4 linked regions of the Homo sapiens genome follow. The protein of the gene in region 1 purifies or fractionates together with the protein of each later gene. This does not show direct contact. Each region holds a gene or a part of one and is shown in the gene's direction. Other genes may lie near its edges.

The links.
Region 2: the proteins of LDLRAD4 (region 1) and HECW2 purify together in Homo sapiens (affinity purification with mass spectrometry; 4 studies listed by BioGRID and IntAct, with this or other methods). This does not show direct contact.
Region 3: the proteins of LDLRAD4 (region 1) and NEDD4L purify together in Homo sapiens (affinity purification with mass spectrometry; 4 studies listed by BioGRID and IntAct, with this or other methods). This does not show direct contact.
Region 4: the proteins of LDLRAD4 (region 1) and WWP2 purify together in Homo sapiens (affinity purification with mass spectrometry; 5 studies listed by BioGRID and IntAct, with this or other methods). This does not show direct contact.

The regions. Positions count from the first base shown.
Region 1 is NC_000018.10:13,214,780-13,221,772, forward strand, and holds the start of LDLRAD4 (low-density lipoprotein receptor class A domain-containing protein 4 isoform alpha 1), read left to right. Parts: upstream 1-3,980; 5' UTR 3,981-4,209; intron 4,210-6,993. UniProt on the Homo sapiens protein: Functions as a negative regulator of TGF-beta signaling and thereby probably plays a role in cell proliferation, differentiation, apoptosis, motility, extracellular matrix production and immunosuppression.
Region 2 is NC_000002.12:196,590,551-196,598,361, reverse strand, and holds the start of HECW2 (E3 ubiquitin-protein ligase HECW2), read left to right. Parts: upstream 1-4,807; 5' UTR 4,808-4,854; intron 4,855-5,378; exon of another isoform or gene 5,379-5,898; intron 5,899-7,811. UniProt on the Homo sapiens protein: E3 ubiquitin-protein ligase that mediates ubiquitination of TP73. Acts to stabilize TP73 and enhance activation of transcription by TP73. Involved in the regulation of mitotic metaphase/anaphase transition.
Region 3 is NC_000018.10:58,397,213-58,402,055, forward strand, and holds the end of NEDD4L (E3 ubiquitin-protein ligase NEDD4-like), read left to right. Parts: 3' UTR 1-4,327; downstream 4,328-4,843. UniProt on the Homo sapiens protein: E3 ubiquitin-protein ligase that mediates the polyubiquitination of lysine and cysteine residues on target proteins and is thereby implicated in the regulation of various signaling pathways including autophagy, innate immunity or DNA repair.
Region 4 is NC_000016.10:69,765,318-69,772,346, forward strand, and holds part of WWP2 (NEDD4-like E3 ubiquitin-protein ligase WWP2), read left to right. Parts: intron 1-7,029. UniProt on the Homo sapiens protein: E3 ubiquitin-protein ligase which accepts ubiquitin from an E2 ubiquitin-conjugating enzyme in the form of a thioester and then directly transfers the ubiquitin to targeted substrates.

The DNA.
Region 1 (6,993 bases):
ACTTGGCCCTCAAATTCCCTTTTTCTCAACATTCGTTCATGTTTCCCTTTTCTATTTATGTCTCCTTAGATGACTGACTAGCAAACTTCTATGGACTAAGTATGGCCAGGGTATAATTGACATGAGACAGGCTGCAAGGATTGACAGTGAAAAATAATCTTTTTCACCTCTCACTCTTTGAAACCAATTTCAGTTGATTTCCACCCAATTTTAGTAATATTTATCTCAATATTGTTTACTCATCTATCCCAATACTAAGGTACCATTCATTCCAAAAAACCCTTTGAGCCCCTTGTGTCAGGCACTATTCTGTGTACTGGGGTCCAAGTTCTCCACCAACGGAGCAAAACAAAGTCTCCGCTCTGCTGCGCTTCAGTCTGGGCCCTTGGAATGAGCGAATGGTCAGGATGAAGCCGATGTAGAATCATGTTGCATTTTACAGAGAGCAAACTTACATCTAAGTACCTCGAACTCTTAGCATTGCTATAGGGAGAGTGTGTGTGTCTGGAAGGGTGTGGGAGGGAATAGCTGAAGTGGAAAACAAATACAGGGAGGACTGAGTAGGAAACACAGGGACAGGCCGGGCACGGTGGCTCACGCCTGTAATCCCAGCACTTTGGGAGGCCAAGGCGGGCGGATCACGAGGTCAGGAGATCGAGACCATCCTGGCTGACACGGTGAAACCCCGTCTCTATTAAAAATACAAAAAATTAGTTGGGCGTGGTGGCGGGCACCTGTAGTCCCAGCTACTCGGGAGGCTGAGGCAGGAGAATGGCATGAACCTGGGAGGCGGGGTTTGCAGTGAGCCGAGATCACGCCATTGCACTCCAGCTTGGGCGACAGAGCGAGACTCCGCCTCAAAAAACAAAACAAAACAAAACAAAAAAAAGAAAACACAGGGACAGGTTCCTCCCATATTTTCTAGAGATAGAAATACAGAGCCGCAGCAGTTTCTAGTTATAAATAAGATAAGAAAGGGCAACACGAGATTGAGATTCATCACAAATGGTAGAAATTGAGATTATGATTTTAAAATTCAGCCCTCAATTTAAGGCGGTTAAGTTAGACACAGAGAAATTATGTGCAAGTGAAATAGAAGGCATTGCTTTGTGGTTTTGGAAAAACTTTTCTTCTTCATTGTCCATGGGGCGTTTAGATGGAAAAAGTCATTTCTTTTTCTACCTAAAGAGGGCAAGAGCACAGTTTCTCCAACCCCAAAGCATGTGAGTTTTGCATTTGTGGACATTAAATATAAACTAAGTATATGCTTGTCAGATTAGGATAACCTGTGTGAAGCACTTATCAGCTTATTGCTCATTTAAAAAAGTTTACCCAGGCAGCCAGGTTCAAAGTTCCCCTGCTACAAGCTTCTCAGTTAGACCAGGACCTGGGCATTCCCAGCTGGAGCGGGCTCATTGCCGGGCACAGGGCAGATGCTGGCTGGTTTGCGGGCTGAGCTGAAGAACTGTCAGCGCTGCTGTAGGTAGGTGGCAGTATGGCATGCTGGTTCAGCTCCCAGCTTTCTATGCAGCTAGTTAGGGATGTAAAACCATCTCTTTGTGGTCTGAGGACAAATTACTAAATCCTTCTAGCCTCAACTTCGTCATGTGTAAAATGGAGAAGTAATAGCTCCCAGTTATTGTGAGGACTCAATCAGACAATCCATGTAAAGCGCTTAGCACAGAAGCGCTCCATGAATGGTAGTTATTATTACATCACATATGAGCACTGATCAAAGGCTAGCGGCAATTACCACCATAGCTGAGAGCTGAGGGCTTAAGGGAAACTGAATTCAGCCAACATTTCACTAACTAAAAAGTCACTGACAAATTAGACAAAACGTAGGTTTCAAAAGATTCATTTCTCTGACATTACGGAAATATGAACTGGACAACTTTTTGGGGGGTGTGTGGGGACAGTTGAAAATGTTCACTCCTTTAATCAGCTGCATCTATCTTAAACCCAGCCTGAAACCCCTGCTTAGTGTAGTATTTTGATATGTCTGCAGGGGGGTTAATTTTGGCAGAGGCGAACTAATTTTGGTGACTGCAATAAAATTGGGTTAAAATGCTCATATGCTCTGGCAGTAACCAATCCCCCATCAAACATGGTAGGGGTGGCTGGAGGCAATGCGTGTACTTCTGAACAAAGTCTGCACTCAGGTGGAGGTCAAGTCCGAAATGGTCTTCACAGGAGGTGTAGGTCCTTCAAGGAGAAAGGGTCACAGCGCGAAGAATCCATCTGACCTTCTAGGCAGGAGCCATTTCCTTTAAAGAGGGCAGGATACTAAGGGGGCGACCAGGTGGGGTCCGGGGGCGCCTCAAGCTCCTCAAGGCTCGCCGAGCACTGCTCCGTCCTACTAAGTGTCCTGCCGCCCGACTGCACGTCTCTAGGCGGCTGCCCGAGGTCCCGCGGCCCGTGGTGCACACGCAGCCCGCGAGGTACTCTGTGCTGGAACGCGCCCCCAGCCTCCCGAAACCGCCCCCGGCCTGCGGGCAGCGAGCCGGCTCCTCCGGGCGCCCCTGCAGCGTACTCTGCGCTCGGCTTGGAGTTCCCCGTGCGGCCGGCGGTGGGCGCGCGCCACGCGGGCCCGAGCCCTGGGCGGGAGTGCGGCCCCGGGTCCCGCGGCCTCGGCGCCCGCGCGCCTCCCCCACTGCCCACCCCCGGCCTCCGGGCCCGCCCCCCGCAGGGGTCGGCGCAGCCTGTGAGCCGGGGACCCCTGAGCCCCCGCCACGGCGGCCCCGGTACCCGCGGCCTGGCCGCGCGCCGGGTCCCCACCGCGGAGTGGGAAGGAGGAGGAGAGACTGGAGGAGTTGGAGACAGACACAGCCGCGGCGCGCAGTCACGGCTGGAGACAGACGGCGGCGACGGCGGCGGGAGGCGGGACACTCCCCCCTCCGGCGACTGGAGGCGGGACACCTCCCCGGCGGCCGCAGCGCCGCGTCCCCTCTCTCCCCGCGCTGAGGCTGCGGACCGGGCCCGGCGGGATTAGCAGGCGAGTGCGTTGGCCCTGCCCGCTCCGCGCGCCGCCGCGGCCGGCCGGGGATCCCCTGCAAGCCACTGAGCCGCTGCCGCCGCTGCAGCCAGACAGGCTGCGGGTGCCTGGGAAAGTGGAAGCAGGGCGGGGAGCGCGGGGGAGGCCCGGGGGTGAGGTCCTCAGCTCTTAAAGAACCCCGGCGCGCCGCGCTCCCCGCCGGCCCGCCGCGCGCCCCCTGCCGCGCCCCGCACAGCGCCCCTCCCCCTGGCCAGCAGGGCCGGTGGCCGCGGAGCCGCACTGCGGGCAGTCCCCGCCTCCGCTCCGGGGGGGCGGCCCAGGTGAGTGCGGACCCGAGGTGGCCGCAGTGGTCGGGGCTTCTGGCCCAAGTTCACCGCTGCGCTCCGGAGGGAGGGGTGGCGGGGGACTCGGGAACCGGACGCTTTGGGAACTGGACGTCCGCGAGCCTGCGCCGTCGGCTGGGGCCGGAGGGAGAAGCTGGGCGCCGAGCGCGCGAGGTCTGTGAGGCTTGGTCCGGGTGGGCTTGCCGGTGGGCACGGCGGGGATCCGGGGCTGGCCCGCGGGCGGGGTTACGCCGGTGGAGGGACTTCGCCGACCCCCACCCCGTTTTCTGTTTCCTGGTGCCCTGGGGCGCAGGGTGTCCCGCGGTTGCAAGACTGAATTCTGCACCGCCCGGAGGCCAGGATGGGCGCGCGGATGGCAGCCCCAACTGTCTCCGCGCCCCTAGGCCTCGGCGAGCCGTGGCGGGCAGGGACTGGAGGTCAGCGGGAAGCGGGAAGATCCTGCAGGACCTGACCGGGGAGTTTGCGGGAAGGAGGGGGCGGGCCAAGCCCCGCAGCCCCTCAGTCCCGCATCCTGCACCGCGCGCTCCCCGGCCCCGGCCCCTCGGGCCCGCTTCACCCGGCGTCCCCCCGGGTCCCCCCGCGCGCGTTGACGTCGGTCGCGGGACCGCCCGGAGCTCCCGGCATTGGCTGGGAAGTCGATTGTCTGGGGCTGCTGCTGTTGCACTTAGGCTGGGTCTCCGAGCCCCGGAGGAAGCAGGCGTGTGTTGAATTTCTCTCTGCCCCTCACCTTGGAATAAACAGGAAGCGACAAGCACCCAGCCCGGCCCGGCACTTGCCTTTGTGAAGGGGTCTGCCCTGCACAGCCTTTAGGAAGCTTCCTCGGGACCCCTTCCCGGTGCGCCGCCCCGGGTGGGCCTGGGGGCGCGCCCTGTGAGTACACCGGTGGAAGACAGTGGGTTCGGTTTAGGTTAAATCGCTATCGTGGCGGAGAGGGCATTTGCTTGTTTAAACTTTTTTTTTTTTTTTTTTAATTGGAAAAGGAGAAGGTTTCCCGATGAGGCAGAGGTTTTCAGGACGACAGGGACGCATGGTGGGTGGGCGGCACTGGGGGAAGGCGCATCCGAGAGTACAGCGTTCTTGGGTCACCTACCTGGAGGGACACCTCGTCGCCAGTCAGGGCAGCTAGAAGCTCTTTAAAGCAAGCAGGACTCCTTAGCTCTGCCCAGGCACAGGAATGGTTGCTGTGTGCCCATAGCCGCATGAACTAGCATGATTTTTGTTTTTCCCCCAAAATTTTTTAATTAGCTAGAATTAGATAATTTTGATTTGCTTCTTTTCTTTTCCTCTGTGTCTTGGTCTATTCCCTTCTCTTTTTCTCTTTTCTAATTATTTTGGCATCTTCTCATCCCCGGACCAGCGCTGCTTTCTAAATGTTAATTACCATTGCAATACATATTTATTGAGGGCCTACTATGTGTTAGGCATTGTAGGATGTGAGGTAAGAGTAGCTGCACAGAATGTGGGTTCTGAGCGCTAGTATTAGTAAGTTATTTGCAGTAGAGGTGGATAGAGATGGTGAGCAGCATTGACTCTCAAAAATAGGGTCCTATGGCTGGTAAGGAGGTTGGTGCCTTCTCGAAGGGCTAGTGCTGGGAAGCTTCCTTTTAAAAACGGCCCTTTCTGCCGGTTTGGCTAGCCAAGAATGGCATCCTCCTCTCTGTATCTTCCCTGGAGCTTCAGGACTGAGTATTGAATGACAGAGAAGGTTCTGCAAAGTCTGCACAGGGAGACTGCCATTGCATCAAGTCATGTCTGCATTCTGTATATGGTATTGTCTTTTCTAGTCTTTAACTCGAGTGTGTTGTCATCTGTAACTCTCCCTTTGTACTCTGCACAATTCTTCTGGAATATAGTCTTTGTGTTCAGTCAAGGATCAGAGTGTCAAATCTGAGTCATTACATAGACAAATGAGGATGTCTGAGTATTACCCATGTATATTTATTGAATTATATTTGGTTTCCCATCAACCCTTGAAATGTTATTTGATGGACCTTTCTAAGCAGTGCTTTTTAAAACAGGGGGCTAACTTCCTTATGATCTTTGAAAGCTTAATTCTTTTTAAGAGCTTCATTTTGCTATTGACATTGAACACAGTGTTAGGAATTAGGGCTGGGAATGTAAATGCCAGTAAGGGATTTGCTGTAATGGAATTGTAGCTACCTTCCTCCCTTGTTTTAAATGACCTCTCTAATTTCTTAACATTCTGCTGTTACCCTTGGAAGGGCTTGCCATTGTTGGCCATGGTCCTGGTTCGTGTAGGTTTGTATTTACATTGGAGAAGACTCTTCCCGGCAGGTTTTTAGGGCTGTCTCTTGAATCCTCTCATGGGCTTGGTTTGCAAGACCACAATCCTGCAGTGGAACGCAGCCAGTGCCAGCTGCTTATTAAGGGATTTTGTGCCAATTTGTTGGCACATTATTTGAGACTCCTGCACCCCACCCTACTCCCACTGGAGTATATACATACATAGACAAATATTTATTTTCCCCCAACTGCTGACAGTGTTCTAAGAATAGTTTTCTTGCCTGGCACGCGGAGAGCAAGGGCCCGTCTGCAGAGGTGTTTACAGTTTGGGACTGTGCTGTAGTCTTGGTTGACTTAGCAGCCTGGCAGACCAGCCTCATAGCTCCTGGGACGCTCTCTGTTTTTGCTCTGGGCTGCTGCAGGGGTAACCTCCCTGACTGATAGGGAAGCACAGTCAGAGGAGAGTGACTTTTGCTCCTTGTGCATGGTTTCTGGCAGGCAGTCCAGCAGAGATCCCTGAGCTCCTGACGTCTCTGCATGTAGCCAGCATAAAGTCTCCTTGTGGTGGGTGGGAGGTGACTGCTCTACGTCATCACGTAAAACCAAAGCCACCTCAGGGCCCTGGGCAGGAATTCTTGAAATTGTAGACTGCTCTGATCTTTCTGGTAGTCCTTGCCATGTTTCTTCTCATCTTTCTTTGGAATCTGGGCTTATCCAGTCTCTATGATGTGTCCTTCTTCCTGTGTAAGAGTTAGTAGAGAAGGAAAAATGTTATCCCTCAAGAAGTGATAAAACATTGTAAAAGAAGAGCGCACCATATTAACCTGGAAAAATTTTTGGAAATAGTTAACAGAATGTATAGCGGCACATGGATATTAAATATGAATAGCGGCAAAATTGCTATGTAGTCCAAAATTATTCTTTTCTTTCTTCCTTCCTCTCTGTCTCCTTCCCTCTCTCCCTCTGTTCCTTCCTTTTTTTAGGTCTCAGAAAAAAATCTCCTGGAAGCCATTATTTTCTGATGTCAAAGAGACTTTCTGCCTATATGAACTGTGTTAGTTTAGAATTACATCTTGACCTATATTACGGGTGTACATGGAAGATGAGTCTTAAGTTTCAAAATAGGAATGCAAAGGTTCTGTCTACTATTTGAAAATTTAGGCCACAAGACCTGCCACTTTTTAGGGACATTTTTTGGGGGGCATTGTTTGCTTCATTGTTAGGCAGAGAAAGGACTGAAGCTAGTACCTGTACTATTAATTATGCTGAAAATATTGGGTTTGAATTTTCAGTTAATGTCATTTTTTTCCATCACAGGAGGAATTGAAAATGATGTCTGTATTGTCACATATCCATGTGATTTAAGAATGGATTGCTTTTCTTTTGAGTTCTCACTAAAAATGGTACTTT
Region 2 (7,811 bases), on another chromosome or scaffold:
CCCTTCCCCTCTTACCCTCCCCTTCCCTTCCCCCCTTCCCCTTCCCCTCCCCTTCCCCTCCTCCCTTCCCCTTCCCTTCCCCCCTTCCCCTCTTACCCTCCCCTTCCCTTCCCCCCTTCCCCTTCCCCTCCCCTTCCCCTCCTCCCTTCCCCTTCCCTTCCCCCCTTCCCCTCTCTTTCCCCTCTCGCCCCCACCTTTCCCTCCCCCTCCCCTCCCTTTCCTTCCCTTTCCTTCCTTCCCTTCCCTTCTTTTCTTTTTTCTTTTTTCGAGACAGAGTTTCGCTCTTGTTGCCCAGGCTGGAGTGCAATGGCATGATCTCGGCTCACGGCAACCTCTGCCTCCCAGGTTCAAGCAATTCTCCTGCCTCAGCCTCCTGAGTACCTGGGATTACAGGTGCCTGCCACCACACCCAGCTGATTTTTCGTATTTTTAGTAGAGACAGTTTTCACCATGTTGGCCAGACTGGTCTTGAACTCCCAATTCAAGACACTTTTTAAGAAAAAAAAAATACACATTATACATACAAAATGAGGTACTGAAAAGAATATATATCCAGAATTAAAAAAATCACAACAATTCGCACATTCAAAAAATCTTATAAGGCTGGGCATGGTGACTCACGCCTGTAATCCCAGCACTTTGGGAAGCCGAGGCCGGTGAATCACTTGAGGTCAGGAGTTTGAGACCAGCCTGGCCAACATGGTTGAACCCCGTCTCTACTAAAAATACAGAAATTAGCCAGATGTGATGGTGGGTTCCTGTAATCCCACCTACTCTGGAGGCTAAGGCAGGAGAACTGCTTGAACCTGGGAGGCGGAGGTTGCAGTGAGCCAAGACCGCGCCACTGCACCCCAGCCTAGGCGACAGTGACACTCCATCTCAAAAAAAAAAAACCAAACAGCAACAACAACAACAACAACAAAACAACCTTACAAGTATTAGATCACCAAATACAGAAAAATACCACGATCTTTAAATTAATTAACTGCCTGACATACCTCTGTGATATGTCTTTCCTACGTATTTTGGCTTTATACTCTTTGATTTATTCTTCATATGAAAATGATTTTGTGACATTATGTTCTATAGAGTTAATAGATATTCCAGTGTTTTCACTAGTAAAGTTGACTAAAATTTGTTTTTATTACTGATAGTTTAGAGGAGTTTCTTTTCAGTCCACAATGCATTATTGGGAAAGTAACATATTTTTAGGATTGTTTCAAAATTTAGGAAAATCACTATTAAATTTATTTCACATATAAACAATAAGATGTGGGAGGGTTTTCCATATTCTAGTTCTGAATCCGTACATACATTTCAAACATCATTTACCCCGTTACCCATATACTTCTGTGCTGGGTGCTGAAGTATGCAGTTATTAATACTTGGTGGTATAATTTCCATCCCTTTACCTTTGTGTCACAACACTGAAGGGCCCAAGTGACTGTCTTTGCACAGTCAAAATAGACATCACTGTCACAACTTTAATGCCCACAGACCACATAAATGTATTCCACTTAACCAATTCAACTTCCCTTTAGCCAGATCCCCACAAATGTCCACAATCACTCCACTTCTTTCGGAACAAGGGGAATTAGGACAACACGGAAGTTAGAATGAAAAGGGACAGCAGTCTTGTCTTAATTCAAGCTGCAATAACAAAGCATCCTAGACTGGGTGGCTTATGAACAACAGAAATTTATTTTTCACAGTTCTGGACGCCAGAAGAATGAGATCAGGGTGCCAGTGTGGTTGTGATGTGGGTGGGAAGGCCCTCTTCCAGTTGCAGACTGCCATCTTTTCTTTGTATCCTCAAGAGGCAGAAAGAGGGTGAGAGAGCTCTCTTGGGTTTCTTTTATAAGGGCATTTATTCCATCACCTCCCAAAGGCCCCACCTCCTAATACCATCACATTAGGGGTTAGGATTTCAACACATGAATTTGGGGGAGCACAAACATTCAGTCCACTGCAAATCGCTTGAGATTAAAATATCTTACTTTGGAAGCTTTTATAAAAATATAAGACCACATGAACATGTCTCTCAGGCTCCTTCTGTGTTGTTGGAAGAGGGCTGGAGTATAAGTTTCTTGGAATCTGCCTTTGGGTTTAGCTTTGGCCATATGCTTTAGAAGGAGCAGTCACAAACCTTGGCACATCTGTAGAAAGGAAGTAACCTAGGATGATGAAGGGTCAGGACACATTGCCATGTGTCCTGCATGACTTATGGGTCATGCAAAGATCTTGGAAAAGAGACAATTCAAGTGGTTCACAAGTTTGTCTTCAGTGCTTGGAGTACTCTCAGGTGGAAGAAATATTTCAACTCAATATAAGGGATCACTTCCTAATGTCAGGCCAGTTTCAATGCAGAATTGACCAGCTTGTAAAGTACTGAGTTCTCTTTAAGGGAATGGCTCCAGGAGAGGATAAGTGAGACCCGGTCAGAGATCTTGTGAAGGAGAGTGGTGGTGATGACGAACGGGGAGTGCAGTGTGAAAGAACCTACCTAATCTTTACACACCTTTGCAAGTTTGAGATTTTTAGGATGACTTTGCTATTAATGTTCTTTGATGCCTTAGTCTCGGTTTTAATGGTCGATATGTAGAAAGTTTTAAAGGTAGTAGGGGCTGCTTTTAAAGTGAGAGAAAAATGTTTTTTAAGACCTAGGGCAGCAATAGTGATTCACTTTGCCTCTATTCATTTTTAGGGTTCTTCTTTCTCCCTCCTTTCCTCCCTTCCTCCCTTCCTCCTCTTTTCTTTTCTTTCTTTTTCTGTTTTTCTTTTCTTTCTTTCTTTTTCCTCCTCCTCCTCCTTCTTCTTCCTCTTCCTCTTCTTTTTTGACAAGGTGACAGGGTCTTGCTCTGTCTTCAAGCTGGAGTGCAGTGGTGCAATCACAGCTCATTGCAGTCTTGAAATCCTGGGCTCAACTGATCTTCCTGCCTCAGCCTCCAGAGTAACTGCGATTACAGGTTCAGGCCACCATGCCTGGCTATTTTTATTTTTATTTCTTTCTTTATTTAATGTATTATACTTTAAGTTCTGGGATATATGTGCAGAACGTGGAGGTTTGTTACATAGGTATACACGTGCCATGGTGGTTTGCTGCACCCATCAACCCATCATCTACATTAGGTATTTCTCCTAATGAGATCCCTCCCCTAGCCCCACAACCCCCGATAGGCCCCTCCTCCCTGATGTGATGTTCTCCTCCCTGTGTTCATGTGTTCTCATTGTTCAGCTCCCACTTATGAGTGAGAAAACGCAGTGTTTGGTTTTCTGTTCCTGTGTTAGTGGGGTCTCACTATGTTGCCCAGATTGGTCTTAAACTCCTGGCTTCAAGAGATCCTCCTGCCTCAGGCATGATTACAGGTGTGAGCCACTGCACCTGGCCCATTTTGACTAGAATGTAACATAGTGGTTAATCAACACAAAGAAGCTAAGGATTGCAGGTGTGGGGTTGCTGGATTTGAGTAAGTTGTGAAGGAGAACATCATGTGGGAACAAACCTCTAGGATCCCTGTTCTTCCAGCAAGAACTGGAATTGGGCCTTTTGTGGGGTGGGGCTCTTTGATTCTGTGGAGGATCCTAACAGTGATGCCTGGGCTGATAGATCCAGGGGACTAAGAAGTCAGGGCTCCTCTGAGACATGTGACAAAACACAGCTGACACTGACTTGAAATAAAAGAGAGAGGATTTATTGGCTTCAAGGGTAGAGTTCACTGCAGACACATCTACCTCCTGAGGTTCCTGAGAGGGTGGGACATCACCCTCTCACCAGCAGCTTTTCTTCCCTCAAAGTTGGCTTCATTGGCATGCACTGTTGGTCCTTGTTACCGTAGGCTTATATCCTTCCAATTTAGTTATCCTAGTTTAAAGAGCTTATTTTTCTGCAGTAATACATCCAAAGCCCTAGGCCGAGTTCCTGGATCAACATGCCCAACCCAGAACCGATCACTGCGGTCCGGAAGATGACTGGCTAGTTCTGGGGGTTGAGGGTGGGAGGTGTCAGTACCCTGGAGCCACAAAGACTCATTGTGGGTGAGGGGGAAGGGCAGTTCCCATAGGAATAATGAACTGCTGTTACCAGAAAAGGCGGAGAAATGGATAATATTGAGCACACACTCAAAAGTCCCAAAGGAATGGCTATCCATTATTTGGGGACTTACTCCATATGGATATAGTTAAATTGTAAAATTGAATAAATCTTCCCTAAATCTGGACAGATGCAAGGGTGGGTGGGGAGGGACACAATATATTTACACTTTAGCATTTTTACTTTTTCTCCTACGTGGGACTGGTTGATGAAGATGCTATAGAAGTAAACAGAAAGCCGAAAGTATTAATACAGTAATTTTAAATTTTAGTGCCCTCTTTAGGCAAAGTATCTGGGAACGCTTTCAATAATCCATTTTTTCATCGTGACCACACCCTGTGTGTGCGACATGAGTATTACCGTCTTGCCCTTGCAGTTGGGGAAACCGAGGCATGACACTCCCCTATTCAGCTTTCTGGTGGGGTTGAGGAACAGTGTTGTCTGCACGACCTCAGAGGGTCTCCTCCACCCTCCGCGACACCTCTAGGAATCCTCCTGTCCTTCGACTTCGCAGAAGGAGAGCAACTCAGGCTCCGCCGCAGCCTCGGGACTCGTCCTCCGCCCAGCCGCACCCGCCCCGTTCTTCCGCACCTTCCTCAGGGAGGTCCCGCTGGCCAAGGTCTGGCTGTCCCTCCTGTCCTCTGCCCCCGCCTCCCTTCCACCGGTCCCCGACGTGCCGCCAGCTCCCAGCCCAGCGTCCCGCAGGGCGGTGCGGGCAGATGCCGCCGAAGCGTCTAGCGGGAAGGGCGCCGGCGCGGCTGGAGGTGAGGAGGCCGGACTCTTCGCTCTCCGCGGACCGGGGCACCGCGGCTGGAGCGGACGCCCGGCACCCGGGCGGGAGGAAGGTGGCGGCAGGGAGCGGCGAGAGGGTGGCGACGCAGGCGGGTCGGCGCCTGGAGAGCGAGCGGCGGGGAGCCGGGCGCTGCGGGGCCGCTCGGGGCCGCGCCGCGCTCGGCCACAAACCTCCCGGAGGCGCAGGACCCCCGGCGCCCTCCCGAGCGCGGGCGGGAGCCATGGCTTCGCGCGTCCCCGCTGCCGCTGCTGACTCGACACAATCGGCGGGTCGCGCGGGGGCCGTGGCGTAACCCGGGGGTGGGTGGCGGCGCGGAGCCGCCTCGAGAGCTCTGGGTGTCGCTGGGAGCTAGGAAGATGCCAGCACAAAGGCGAGCCGAGACCCAGCCCGCTGCGGAGGGCGGCGGGAAGAGCCGCTGAGGGGCGCGCCGAGCGCGCTCTGCCCCTGCGCCGCGTCTCTCCGGGCGCTTCTCGCGGTCTCGGGGTCGGGGACTGCAGCGCAGAGACTCTCGGCTCCGTGGCAGCGGCCGCAGCAGCCGTGAGCTGCATGCAACGCGCGGCGGCGCCCCCGGCCGCCTGCTTTCTCCTCGGCGCGCACGGACCGGCCGCAGGGCGCCGGGGCCGCGGGTCCGGGCGACTTTGGGGGCGCCCTCCCGCCCCGCGGCCGGGTCCCCACCCGCAGCTTGTGGCGACGGGCGCAAAGCCCAGGTGAGCGCGCGGCCCTCGCCGCAGGTAGCGGACGGCGGGAGGTGGCTTTGTTTTTCCTCCCTTGCGCCCCGGCGCGGTCATTCATTTGCCATTTCGGTTTCCGCTGCCCAGGATGTGTTGGATGGTTTGGTTCTCCAGGGAAACTGGGACTTTGGGGTCTATTTGAGCATCAGTTGAGGGAGAGGACGCTTCATTTCCTTTTTGGTTGGGAATGTGCCGTGAACATCCTCTGCTGGAGCTTGGGGCCTGGAGCAAACTGGGGCTGCAGATTTAGACGTAGACGTTTCCGAGGACGCGAGACTGCAGAGGTCTGACTCTCTCATGCCTTGTCTTCACTATTAGCAGCGCTCGGGTGCTTTTCGTCGTTTATTATTATTAATTTAGAGAACATCTTTACAGGCACATTTCTTTTAGAGTTAGAAGTCTTTGGAGTCAGTACAGAGAGCTCACAATTAGAGTTACAAGGGTTCAATCGATATTAAACTTCAGGAAGGAAAACATTTGTGATCATTACAGATAGAGGTGGACAGCATGCAAACTTCGGGGGCCTTTAGCTTTTGGGTTATGATTTCTGCTTTCACTGTCCTAGACTCACGCAAACTGTTTTCGTATATATATACCTTTGTGAAAGTGTGAAACTTGTCTTTTCTGGAGTAGTGTTCTATAGTTTGTCATTTAGAAGAAGAATATTTTAGTGTAATTAGTAGAGCTCTCCATGTGTTTGTCTTATAAATATGATTTTCTTTTTACTATTTCTCCTATTCCCTCGAGGGTTCATTTCTTCTGTTGCTTTGAGAGAGCTTTTTTTCTTTCTCTTCCCAACAGATGGCTGTATGTTCCAAGAGGTTATCTTTAAAATGACACACACATTATCTACAAAGAAAGAAAGATCAGTTATTGACTTTATCTTTGGAGTTATTAAAATAAAAGGCCTAATCTGGATGGGGATATTATTAATGGCGTGAAAATCTGGAGTTTGCTAATCTGTTTGGTCATCAGAAGATTCCTGCGGGGATTGTTTATATAGCGTGGGAGACAGATGGCATCCCTAGCAGACTAGAGAAGCCAGGCATAAAGGGTCATTGTATTCTTCAGAAATTATCCACTTCACTATTAGAGGTGGGGTAGGGTGGGGTGGAGGGTGGCAAAGACATTTTGATCTCTTAAAGGAGACACTGTAACGTTACTATCCAGCAGTCTAACCAGCTTTAATTTTTCTTTTTGTTGAACATTCAAAAAGTCCCAATTGAGCTATTTGTTTTGATTATTTCATTGGCACATTTTGGCTTCGATGTGGTTGTGTGAAGCAGTTTATTAACAAAAATGTCTTTGAACTTAAAAATAATCGTGCTGCTTCTGGGGGAAAATCAGTTGCACCTTTCTTAGCTCTTGTATATAAATGGCCCCTTGGACTCAAACCGTCTTCTGGCTGGAAAGACTTTAGTCTTCATTAGTTTGAATCCAGTTTCCTTCACCATCTCCGTGACAGGTGATTTCCAAATCCCCACCATTTGGCCGCAGACTCTGAGGTTTGGGCACCATGATGATTTCCCAGTCTAAGACATTCGCTTCACCATCGCCTCTATCACGGTATTGGGCAACATTTGGCAATGAATCTTTATGAATGGCTGTGGTGTCGGTAAAGAAATCAAAATCATTCTGAACATTTGAGATAAACCAGCTGGAGCTTTTCTGCGCCTACCACTGTTGTGGATTATCTATGTGTTGTGTAGATTGCAACCAGATCACAAAGCTAGTTTTCCCTCTTTATGAATGTGAAGGAAAATATTCCAGTAAATTAACATTTGCCAGCCACAGGACTAAATTTAATGAAGATTATGAGCAATGTTTGACCCCTCTGAACAGGAGACAAAAAATAAAAGTAAGCACTGGTTCTGTTTCACTTGGGCAATGTGATCTTGGGAGAAAAACCTATATTTTCTTACTCTTTTAAAAGGCTTTTGCAACACTGATTTCAGCCAAAGGCAAAGAAACCAAGGTTGTTACCTGTAGTTGAGGACAGATGCTTTGGCGTTTTCTCCTAGATGAATGTGTTTTGCAGGAGAGGTGGCTTTTGGGATCTTCCCAGTTTTAATATGTGCCTACACATCAATGAAATGATCTTGCATTCAAAATGCTTGTTAAGTCTATATGGTTGGTATCTGTGTAACCTCTAACCAGGTGGCTTTCTCTGTTGTGAAGTGTTCCTTTAAGAGAAACC
Region 3 (4,843 bases), about 45 Mb from region 1:
TCAAAACTGTGGAAACCAGATCTGTTTAGTCTCCTGTTTGTATGCGTTTGCTAATGGTAGCTAAATAACCAGTTTTTGTTGTAAATGCACCAATTCTGAAGGCACTTTATGTACTACATGGAGGTCATATCTGGTTTTGTTTTTATTTTTTTATCATGAACATTAAATGTGATGATGATTTCTTTTCCCTGCACACATCTTTCCGGTGCAATATCTATCAATTGTGAATCTGGCTGCTGGTGTATAAAAACCTGGATGTAAAGCTGAGCCTACAGACCTGTCCTCACCAACTGTTTTGTGATTTCTACTCAACTACAAAGATTTATTTAATGTACTCTTAATCTAACTGAGTTTTGTTACCAATGACCTGTTGCATGCTTCAATACCGTGTACTGCCTGAGTTGTGCCTCTTGTGTGCTAGATTAAAAGTGAGACAGAGACTTGACTTGATCCTCTGAGCTCAAGCTATTGAGCTGGTAGTGGCAGAGGACTGAGGGTACCTGCACAGTTTGATTCTTTTCCACGTGTAAGTCTCCATTGCAGAATTGTCGTGCTTTGAGAAAACACCTGAGGCAGTGTGGGAGTTGAACGACCCTGCTGTCCTTTTTAACCTGTGTTGTCCTAGACCCTGTCGGGGCAGTCAGGGGACACTAGAGATTTGATCTCATGCGAGTCATCAATAGGACAAAAAAGTTGTGGTTTGGGGAGGTCTGTTTGTTACATAAAAAGGACCTTTCGGTGTAAGAAATTGCCGTTTTTACCCTGCCCTGGCTGGCATGTGAGAAGCCATGGAAGGTTGTGGTTGTAAATGAGTTGTCTAAAGGGGTGCAGAGGCCTGAGGTTTCTAAAAGAAGGTAGATTTCTACAGAGCTGAGTGTTGGTTCCTTTTTCTTATTGGTTGAAAATTACCTGGTAGTGATCAGAAAACTTAGATGCTATGTAACTAAAAAAAAAAAAAAAAAAAAAAAAAAAAAAAAAAAAATTCCCGCTCATGAGTTTTGACTATTGGTGAGATGTTTTCCGCTACAGTTAACATGACAAATGTCTCAGTGGCAAAAATCCCCTTTTTGTAAGCCCCCATAGTCTAGAGGCAGTTTTCTTTTTAAGAATCATGCCAGAGCCTGAGTCGAGCAGTATGCTTTCTTGGTTTTTGAGAGTAATTGTGTAATTGTAGAGGGAGAAATCCAATTCTAACCTAAGAACTGGGATTCTTCTGTCATCTTGTAAACCGTATATTGAAAAAAACAGAATGTCACTAAATGCATATTAAGTCAAGTATTGGAAAGTATAAAAGAAAAATCATTCTGACAATTTCTAAGCCAGAAGCAAACAAGAATTACTGAAATCTACCCCATGAATACTTGGAAGGCAGTAATTGTGAGTGACACCTCAGTTCATCAACCCCTTAATAATATCAGCTTAATTTTAATGACAACTAAATATGCTGAAGTGAGGATTTAGTATTTTTTAAAAAAGCAAAACAAGGTTCAGTAGTCCTCAGCAATTCTCCAAGTTTCTCTCTTTGCCTAAAATGGTCATAGATCTTGATTTCTCTGAATCGTGATGACCACACCCAGTCATCTTCACAGCATAATTGCAGGTGGCAGTAAAGAGAGTGTGCTGGGTAAGGAGCAGTTGCTGGGTCATTCCTTGGGCCCCGACCTGCCCGGGGAGTAGCCCTGGGGGAGAGAGGGCAGTGTTGCCTATCCCAGAGGTCCCAGCAGTCACACTGCTCTGCAGGCCGGGCTCTCTTTATAGCCAGAGAAATCACCTTAATGCAGTCTCTTTAGTTGTCTGCTGAAGCTGTAGTTATTATGGGCCACTTACATGAGGCTGAGAAGTACGTGCCGGAGCTCACACACTGCCTGTTGCGGTTCTCTTAACATCAGTTATCACAGCTGCCTGTGGGTCCCGGGTATTTCCATTCCTGCCCCTTGTTGGCCCGAGGAAGGATGTGGAAAGAGCACCTGGTGGGATGAAGGTCCAACAGCCTGTGCCTCTCCACTGCTGGCCCTGGAGCCGGCAGCAGTGAGGCATTCATTGTCTGTGTTGCGGTGTATTCCCAGCTTCAGTGCTCTTTTCCTTTTTGCCTGAAATGTTTATGCTTCTCTGCAGCCAGTCCTCTAACAAATCTCAAGAACAAAGGTAAGACACTTGGTTTTTGTTTCCAGGACCCTTCAGAAGGTGACATCAGATATTCCCTAAATTCAGACAATGAGGGATACAGAGCGACTTGGCATGTATTATTTCTCCCATGTAAGGACAAAGGGACAGATTATTATTGTTATTTCTGAGACAGAGTCTTGCTCTGTAGCTCAGGCTGGAGTGCAGTGGCTCAATCTCAGCTCACCACAACCTCTGCCTCCTGGCTTCAAGCGATTCTTCTGCCTCAGCCTCCCCGAATAGTTGGGATTACAGGCACCCACCACCACGCCTGGCTAATTTTTGTATTTTTAGTAGAGATGGTTTCACCATGCTGGCCAGGCTGGTCTTGAACTCCTGACCTCAGGTGATCCTCCCGCCTCAGCCTTCCAAAGTGCTGGGATTACAAGCATGAGCCACCGCACCCGGCCTCACAGTGACAGATTCTGAGAAACAGCATGCAAAACATTTGAACCATTTTCTACATCTCCCATTGTTGCATAGAGAGTGTGCACCGCTGCTATCTTGCCAGATCCACACTGGTCCTCCCGAAAGCCAGGTTCATACACAGCAACTTTTTAATTATTCTAACAGTTACCCATTAACAGTCGACTCCTGTATTTCTGAGAGTCTTGTACTCACCTCTGAAATTTAAAAACGTATAAAGAGAGCCTGGGTTAATCAGTTCTGCAGCCCCTACGTGACACTGTGCTAGTTCTCCTTCTTCTGTCTCCTCCTTACCCTGGCCCTGCACCCCTGTACTTAAGAGGGAGAGGTGGGAGGTGCTGTCTGGTATCATTTGCTGCCTCGCCAGTAGAGGGTGCCGCTGTGCAGGGTAACTGCCCGCCTGCTCCCTTCCTGACCTCCCCTGACCCCGAAGATCACTACCTCTGTCATTCAGGCATTGGGGTACATCCTGATAAGTCGTGTCAGAACTGCCAATTTCAGGACTGAGATGTGTTTTTAAAAAACAAATCCTTATAAACTCCACTTTGTACTTTAGATTTTAAAACTGGGGAAAAATGTGATATTCTTTGGACCACTTTTTTAATTTATATAAGCCTTAATGAACAGTGTCTATACATTTGCATACACACACCCCCACCCCAGAGTGTTCTCAGTATGTCAGAGAAAGTGCCACAGCATTAGGACGGGAGCTTGGAGAACGTTTTCTAGAAAAGGGTTAGCTTCCTGTTGGCATGAAATTTTCCAAGCAAACCTCATTAAACATCTGTTGTTTGTTAAAGATGTTCCACTGAAAGCAACGCATGTTTCAAAGGCACGTCTTTCCGTTCGTTGGTTTTCTGTGTGTAAGGAGTAGCATTGCTGTTGGCGCCTAACCTCGCGTGCACTGCATTCTCAACCCCGTACCAGTGCATCATCAGAAGCCTTCCTCGTGACCATAACTCTGTGTCTGCAGATATGTGTTCCCGTGTAAGCCAGTTTTCCCCTTTTACTCAGACTGATTTCACCTAGATTGTCACGGTTTCCTTCATGTTAACTTTGCGTGACTTTGTTCTTCCTTTACTACTCTGTATGTAATATATATACATATATACGTACATATGCTGTCCAAATATATTTGTATATATTTGTATAGCATTTTTACACCTTTATTGAGTAATCTGGTTTCGAAAGGAGGTGAGAGTTTAGTCCCTTCTGCAGTTTTCTCCAAGCTGTGTCCTGTGAATTTCAACCCTTGGAGCCTAAGAAAACCCTAGGAAGATGATGTTAATTTGCTGTCATTTCCTAATTCAGGATCTATCATCAAATGAAACATGAAAAAAACAGTGACTTTTAAGGTGAAAAGAGTTTCAAGCATTCCAAATAAATTATCAATGTTTCATAACTTTTTATTATAAACCCACCTCCTAATAGGAAGCCAAGTACTATTTGATACAGTGGTAAAAACCAAACTACCTTGAATTTTTTTAAGGCAACTTATGAATAATGCTCATTTTCACAGTCAGAATAGCTTTAAAATATGGTTGAATTTGATACACACAGGAAGTTTTCTTGAAGAACAATCCTTTCGCTTTTCTTTTTTCTTGAGAGATCTAAAGAGAAACTGTAGATTGTTTTCCTGACAGCAAAAGACTAATGTGACAAAATGAAGTCATTGTAAAGAAGCGATGCAACTTGTCAAATATTTAATAAAGAATTATGGAAGCTGGAACATTTTCTACATCAAGTGTTATGGGTTGTTTGATTTAAAGCTTCTTTGTGAATGCACCATCTTAATTGTTGTCAGAGGGGTTTAAATGCCTGCAGATTTATAGTATGTTCATTTCCTTCATCTCCCTAAAAGCGCCGCACTTTTAAAAACATTAAAGTCTGGCAGGGCACAGTGGCTCACGCCTGTAATCCCAGCACTTTGGGAGGCTGAGGTGGGCAGATCACTGAGGTTAGGCATTCAAGACCAGCCTGACCAACATGGTGAAACCCCATCTCTACTAAAAATACAAAAAATATATATATATATTAGCCAGACGTGGTGGCGCATGCCTGTAATGCCAGCTACTCAGGAGGCTGAGGCAGGAGAATCGCTTGAACCCGGGAGGCAGAGGTTTCAGTGAGCTGAGATTGTGCCATTGCATGCACTCCAGCCTGGGTGACAGAGCGAGATTCCGTTTCAAAAAAAAAAAAAAAGTCTGCCCAAAACACATGGCTTAAGCCTACTAAAAGGATGCACATTTATTCT
Region 4 (7,029 bases), on another chromosome or scaffold:
AAAAAATTATAAATGTGGCTTGCACTTGTGGCTCCCATCTTATTTCTATTGGACAAACCTGTTCTGAATGCCAGGAATATAGCAGTACAAGAAAGGTAAGGATCCCCACCCTTGTGGATCTTCAATTTTATTAGAGAAGGGCACATTGATAACTAAGTATAATATGTATTATGTTGTAATAAAGCAGGGAAGAGGGATGTAGGTTGCAGTTTAAATAGGATCCTGGCCAGGTGCGGTGGCTCACGCCTGTAATTCCAGAACTTTTGGAGGCTGAGACGGGCGGATCACTTGAGGTCAGGATTTCAAGACCAGCCTGACCAACATGGTGAAACCCCATCTCTACCCAAAATACAAAAATTAGCTGGGCTTGTTGGCACATGTGTCTAATTCCAGCTACTCGGGAGGCTGAGGCACGAGAATTGCTTGAGCTCGGGAGATGGAGGTTGCAGTGAACCAAGATCGCGCCACTGCACTCCAGCCTAGGTGATGAAGTGAGACTCCGTCTTGCTTTTGGAGAGATGGGGAGTTGGGGGCGGGGGTTCTCACTTTTGCCCAGGCTGGTCTTGAACACTTGGCCTCAAGACATCCTCCTGCCTCAGCCTCCGAAAGTGCTGAGATTACAGGCATGAACCATTGCACCTGGCTCAGTCTCTTAACTCTAAATACTATCCACATGCTAACAGCTTCCATATGTGTGTCTAGCCTAGGCCTGTCTCGAGACTTCTAGATCTAATTGCCCACAATATCTTCACGTGGATTCCTATCAGGCATTTTATAATCAACATCAACAAAATTGAGCCCTACACCTGCCCCTCAGACAGCCTTCCCCATCTCAGTTAATGACAACTCCATTCCTCCAGTTGTTCAAGCCAAAGACCTTGGAGTCACCCTTGACTCGTCTCTTCCTCTCACACCCCACATCCAACTCAGCTCGTCCACAAAGCCTACTGGCTGTACTTCAGAGTACACCCTGGATGCATCTTTCCCCTGGATGATGGCAACAGCCTCCTAACTTGTCTCCCTCTTCCACCCTGGCTGGCCTTCACTTTCTCCACACAGGACCCAGGGCAAGTCTGTTAAAAGGCAGGGTGGATCCTGTCCACTCCACTGCCCAACTCAAACCCTCCAATTGTCCCAGCTTAACTGGAGTGAAAACCAATACCCTACAATGGCCTGCAAGCCTTCCATGACCTGATCTCTCCTCCCACACCCACCACCACCCTGACCTCCTCTCTCCACTCCTGCTTACTCAATCCCCTCCAGCCACACTGGCCTCCTGACTGGTCCCAAAACCTGCCAGTGGTACTCCTTATTTGGGGCTTTTGAACTCTGCCTGGACCCTTAAGCCCCTATTCAGCCACATGGCCCCTTCCTTCCCTCACTTCCTCAGATCTTTACTCAACCATCACCTTCAGAGAGAGGCTTTTCTAGGGATCCTATATTTTACTTTATTATTTTTGGAGTGTTGTTCTGTTGCCCAGGCTGGAGTGCAATGGTACGATCTTGGCTCACTGCAACCTTCACCTCCCAGGTTCAAGTGACTCTCCTGCCTCAGCCTCCTGAGTAGCTGGGATTACAGGCATCTGCCACTATGTCCAACTAATTTTTGTATTTTTAGTAGAGATGGGGTTTCACCAGGTTGGTCAGGCTAGCCTCAAAATCCTGACCTCAAGTGATCTGCCTGCCTCGGCCTCCCAAAGTACTGGAATAGGGGTTTTGTTTTTTTTTTTTTTAATCTTTTTGAAAACCACAAGCTAATGGGTTTCTTTTTTCTTAATGAGGCTACTCTTCCAACTGTGCATCTTTATAGCACCCCTGAAATCAATTTGAGTGCCAATTTCTGGAATTAGTCTGGCTTCCTGGGTTGGCATCCAGTTTAGGCCTCCAGGATGGATGGATAATGGGCTTTTTATGTTTGAAATATGTATTGGTTTTTTCAAACATGTATTGAATGCATGTTGTTTGTCAGGCATCCCACCATTTTATACATTTAACCTTGTTGAGGTGAAGTGACCCTCACGAGGTCAGATAGCTAAGAAATGAAAGAGATGGCCATTTGAATCTTGGTCTTCAGAGTCCACATCTGGTCCTTCTACCACTTATCATTAGTGAGATGGGTGGAGTGGCTATATAAACATAAACTCCCTTTGGAATCAAATCAGTGAGTTGCTTTTGAGCGACTTTGAGTCCCTTAGGACTATTATGTGTCACAGGCAGAAAGGGAATTTACCAGGTAAAGAAAGGCAGATTTATTAAAGTGAAAACACGTTGCAAGAAAGCAATGGGCAGCACAGCAGAGAAGGGGCTGTCTGCAAAGAGGCAGGAGATGGAGGGAAGTTTTACAGGGTTGTGCTGGAGGGGGCTATGTGGGGATTGATGCATCTGAGGGCTGTTTGTGATTAATCATTTCTCAGAACGACTGTCCATGGCTTTCCCCTACCTGAGGCCCCTTCCTCGTTGTTGCTTACTTATCTTATTAGGACTCCACATTATGGACTCTGAAATTTCTTTTCTTTCTTCTTTATTTGTTTTGCTTTTGAGACAAGGTCTCATTCTGTCACCCAGGCTGAAGTACAGTGGCATGATCATGGCTCACTGCAGCCTCAACCTTTTGAGCTCAAGTGATCCTCCCATCTTAGCCTTCCAAGTAGCTGAGACTATAGGCATGTGCCACCATGCCTAGCTAATTTTTAACTTTTTTGTAGAGATGGGGTCCCACTATGTTACTCAGACTGGTCTTGAACTCCGGGCTCAAGTGATCCTCCTGCCTCAGCCTCCCAAAGTGTTTGGGGTTACAGGTGTGAGCCACCACAACTGGCTAGGGCTCTGGAATTTCTGAAAGATGGGAACAAAAGGGAAGATGTTTCCCCTGGATGATGGGACAGGTTAGATTCTAACCAAAATCTTTTTAGAAGGTTGCAGTTCCCTGTTTTTCACCCCACCGCAGTTTATAGCAAATATTCAGTGATTTAAATCATTACTACTAATAATAACTATTAGGAAAATACCAGCCAGGCATGGTGGCTCACACCTATAATCCCAGCACTTTAGGAGGCCGAGGTGGGTAGATCACCTGAAGTCAGGAGTTTAAGACCAGCCTGGCCAACATGGAGAAACCCCGTCTCTACTAAAAATACAAAAAATTAGCTAGGCGTGGTGGCAGACACCTGTAATCCCAGCTACTTGGGAGCCTGAGGCAGGAGAATCGCTTGAACCCAGGAGGCGGAGGTTGCAGTGAGCCGAGATTGCATCACTGCCCTCTAGCCTGGGCAACAAGAGCGAAACTCCTTCTCAAAAATAATTAAATAAATAAAAAATAACAAGTACCAAGACATGGCAGTCCTGACCTAGGGCCCGTCCTCTTCCTCAAGTCACCCATGCCTTTTGCTTCTTGTTTTGTCTTCAGATCTGCTTTCCAGTCAGCCTCTTTTATTCTTAGCCTGTAATTCCACGGGGCTTCCAATAGTGTACCTCCCTGCTCCCTCCCGTTTTCTCTTTTTCCGTGCTTAGTCTTTGTAAGGATGTCATTTGGCAAAGTTGATTCTGTTTGATTGTTTTTCAATATGGGCCTTTGGAGAATGGAAGGTAGTAACTCAATGCTGGACAGAGGAAGGAGGCCAAGAAAGAAGCATTAGTGTTGGAGTAGCATGAGCCTGTGAAGAACAGGAGAATCTTTTGGACAGAGCTTTTCCTTGCATATCTTTCAAGAAATGAGTGCAGGCTGGGCGCAGTGGCTCACGCCTGTAATCCCAGCACTTTGGGAGGCCAAGGCGGGTGGATCATGAGGTCAGGAGATCGAGACCATCCTGGCTAACGTGATGAAACCCATCTCTACTAAAAATACAAAAAACTAGTCAGGCGTGGTGACAGGCACCTGTAATCCCCGCTACTCGGAAGGCTGAGGCAAGAGAATTGCTTGAACCCGGGAGGTGGAGGTTTGCAGTGAGCCGAGATTGCACCACTCACTCCAGCCTGGGTGACAGAGCAAGACTCCATCTCAAAAAAAAAAAAAAAAAAAAAATAGAAGTGGGTGCAAGGTTTATCTCTAGTTAGAAATAAGCTCTGCCTGTTTCTACAGCTGGTTAATTAGAAATAAAATCTTTGTGAACCCATGGATTATATTGAAAAAAATTTTTTAAAACAAGAAATAAAATATTGATACTGGTGTGTAATTTCTGCTTTTCCCTGGCTCCTTCTACACAGGTCTTTTCATCTCAAGATCGGTGTTCACTGGTTTCTTGACTCAGAGCTGGGTCAAGAATTTTAGGAATTGAGGTGCTTGTAATGCCAGAGCCAAGAATTTCAGTATCGAGAAGTGGTTTTGTTTGTAGTTGATATTTGAAGAGCTCTTACTGTGTGTCCTCTGCTTTACCTGAATTCATGTAGTCAGTACAGTAATCTTATAAAGTAAGTACTATTATTGGGTTCATTTCACAGATGAGAAAACTGAGATTTAGAGAGGGTAGGTATGATTTTGTGAAATATATATTTAGTCTTCCTCCCATTTCCTGGCCTATAACTCCTAAAATCATTGAAATCTCCCAAGTGATCAGTGTCTTTTTTTTTTTTTTTTTTGAGATAGAATCTCGCTGTGTCGCCCAGGCTAGAGTGCAATGGCATAATCTCGGCTCGCTGCAGCCTCTAAGCGATTCCCGTGCCTCAGCCTCCCAAGTAGCTGGGGCTACAGGCACATGCCGTCATACCCAGCTAATTTTTGTATTTTTAGTAGAGATGGGATTTCGCCGTGTTGGCCAGGCTGGTCTCGAACTCCTGAGCTCAGGTGATCTGTCTGCCTTGGCCTCCCAAAGTGCTGAGATTACAGGTGTGAGCCACCACACCTGGTCAGTGTCTTTTTGTGTGCTAATAATTGACCTTTGGTTGGGGACTCCTGGATAGTCTCAGGATTTGGGGGCCAGTGGCCAGGGAAACCAGCCTTGTAGTTAGAGGGTTGGCACTTTTAGTCCCACACCCAGCCTCTGGGACAGGGAGAGGGACTGAAAGTTGACTTGATCTGCAGTGGCAGTGACTTAATTGATCATGCCTGCGTAATGAAGCTTCCATAAAAACCCTGAAGGACTGGGTTTGGGGAGCTTCTGGATGGCTGCACACGTGGAGGTTCTTGGAGGATGGCACCCTCAGAGAGGGCTTGGAGGCTCTGTGCCCCTTCTCACATGCCTCGCCCTACGTCTCTTCATTTGTATCCTTCATAATATCCTTTATAATAAATCAGTAAATGCAAATAAAGTGTTTCCTTGAGTCCTGTGAGTTGCTCTAGCAAATTTATCAATCCTAAGAACCTCGATTTATAGCCGGTTGGTCAGAAGCACGGGTAAAACAACCTGGAGCTTGCAATTGATGTCGCAAGTCAGGGGCAGTCTTGGGGAACTAAACCTGTGGGATCTGATGCTATTTCCAGGTGGATAGTGTAGGAACTGAATTAGAGGACACCCAGCTGGTGTCTGCCAGCTGCAGAATTGATTGCTTACTTGGTATGTGGGGCTCCCACACATCTGGTGTCAGAAGTATTCTGTGGGGCTGGGCGTGGTGGCTCACACCTGTAATCCCAGCACTTTGGGAGGCAGAGGTAGGAGGATCGCTTGAGCCCAGGAGTTTGAGATCAACCCGGGCAGCATAGTGAAATCCTGTCTCTATTAAAAAAAAAAAAAAAAGGTAGTATTCTGTGTTGTGAGAGTATAGCAGGAAGAAACTGAGTTTGCTTTTTCCTCTCCATCCTCTCAGTAAGTAACTTGCTCTGGATCACTCAAAGGCAAATGAGTGGTTCAGCTTATTAGCCTCCAGAAGATTGACAGGTCTGAAAGGTTGTTGCTGAGGTAGGGTGATAAAAGTGATCAGGTGCTTCAGGTATTGCAGGAGCTGCCACTAGCTTAATCTGATGTGTAGTTGTTTTCTCCTGTCAAAAGTTCTGTAATAATTATTATTTTTCTTTTTGAGATGAAATCTTGCTGTGTCTCCCAGGCTGGAGTGCAGTGTGCTATCTTGGCTCACTGCAACCTCCGCCTCCCGGGTTCAAGCTATTCTCTTGCCTCAGCTCCTGAGTAGCTGGGATTACAGGTGCCTGCCACCATGCCCGGCTAATTTTTGTATTTTTAGTAGAGACGGGGTTTCCCCATGTTGGCCAGGCTGGTCTCGAAATCCTGACCTCAAGTGATCCACCCGCCTGGGCCTCCTAAAGTGCTGGGATTATAGGCATGAGGCACAGAGCCTGAAGGACTGTAGCTTTGTAGTAAGTTTTAAAATTGGAAAGTGTTAGTCATCCAACTTTGTTCTTTTTCAAGATTGTTTTGGCGATTCTGGGTTCCTTGCATTTCCTTACTTTAGGATCAGCTTGTCAATTGCTGAAAAACAATTCTCTTTTTCTCTCTGTTTGTTTTTATATCTGGCTTTTTGGCCAAGGACTTCTGCAATGTTTGTTGACATTTAGGTGTGAAGTACACATGTATGCTAGGACCCAAGTGCGGGAAGGTGAGTTGGGTGGGGGAAATTGACCTTTTCAGTTTATAATGTAGACTTTCACTGTCTCGCTGGGTCAATATGGTGCCTTATCCCTATTGTCAACTATGCCTGAAGTCTTGAGTTTGGTTTCACCTGTTGAGAAACTAAAAGTCTTTTTAGTCTTTTTTTTTTTTTTTTTTTTTTTTTTGAGACAGAGTCTTGCTCTTGTTGCCCAGGCTGGAGTGTAATGGTGTGATCTTAGCTCACCATGACCTGTCTCCCAGGTTCAAGCTATTCTCCTGCCTCGGCCTATCCCAAGTAGCTGGGATTACAGGCACGCACCACTACACCTGGCTAATTTTGTATTTTTAGTAAAGACAGGGTTTCATCATGTTGGTCAGGCTGGTCTCGAACTCCCGAACTTGGGTGATCCGCCTGCCTCGGCCTCCCAAAGTGCTGGACTAAAAGTCTGCTTGGGATTAGGAAGGGGCAACTGCTTGGTTGAACTGGGTGGGGAGGGGACTCTGGGACTCTAATCATTCCCAAGATAGGCTTTTGCCAGTCCTCCTGTTTTTA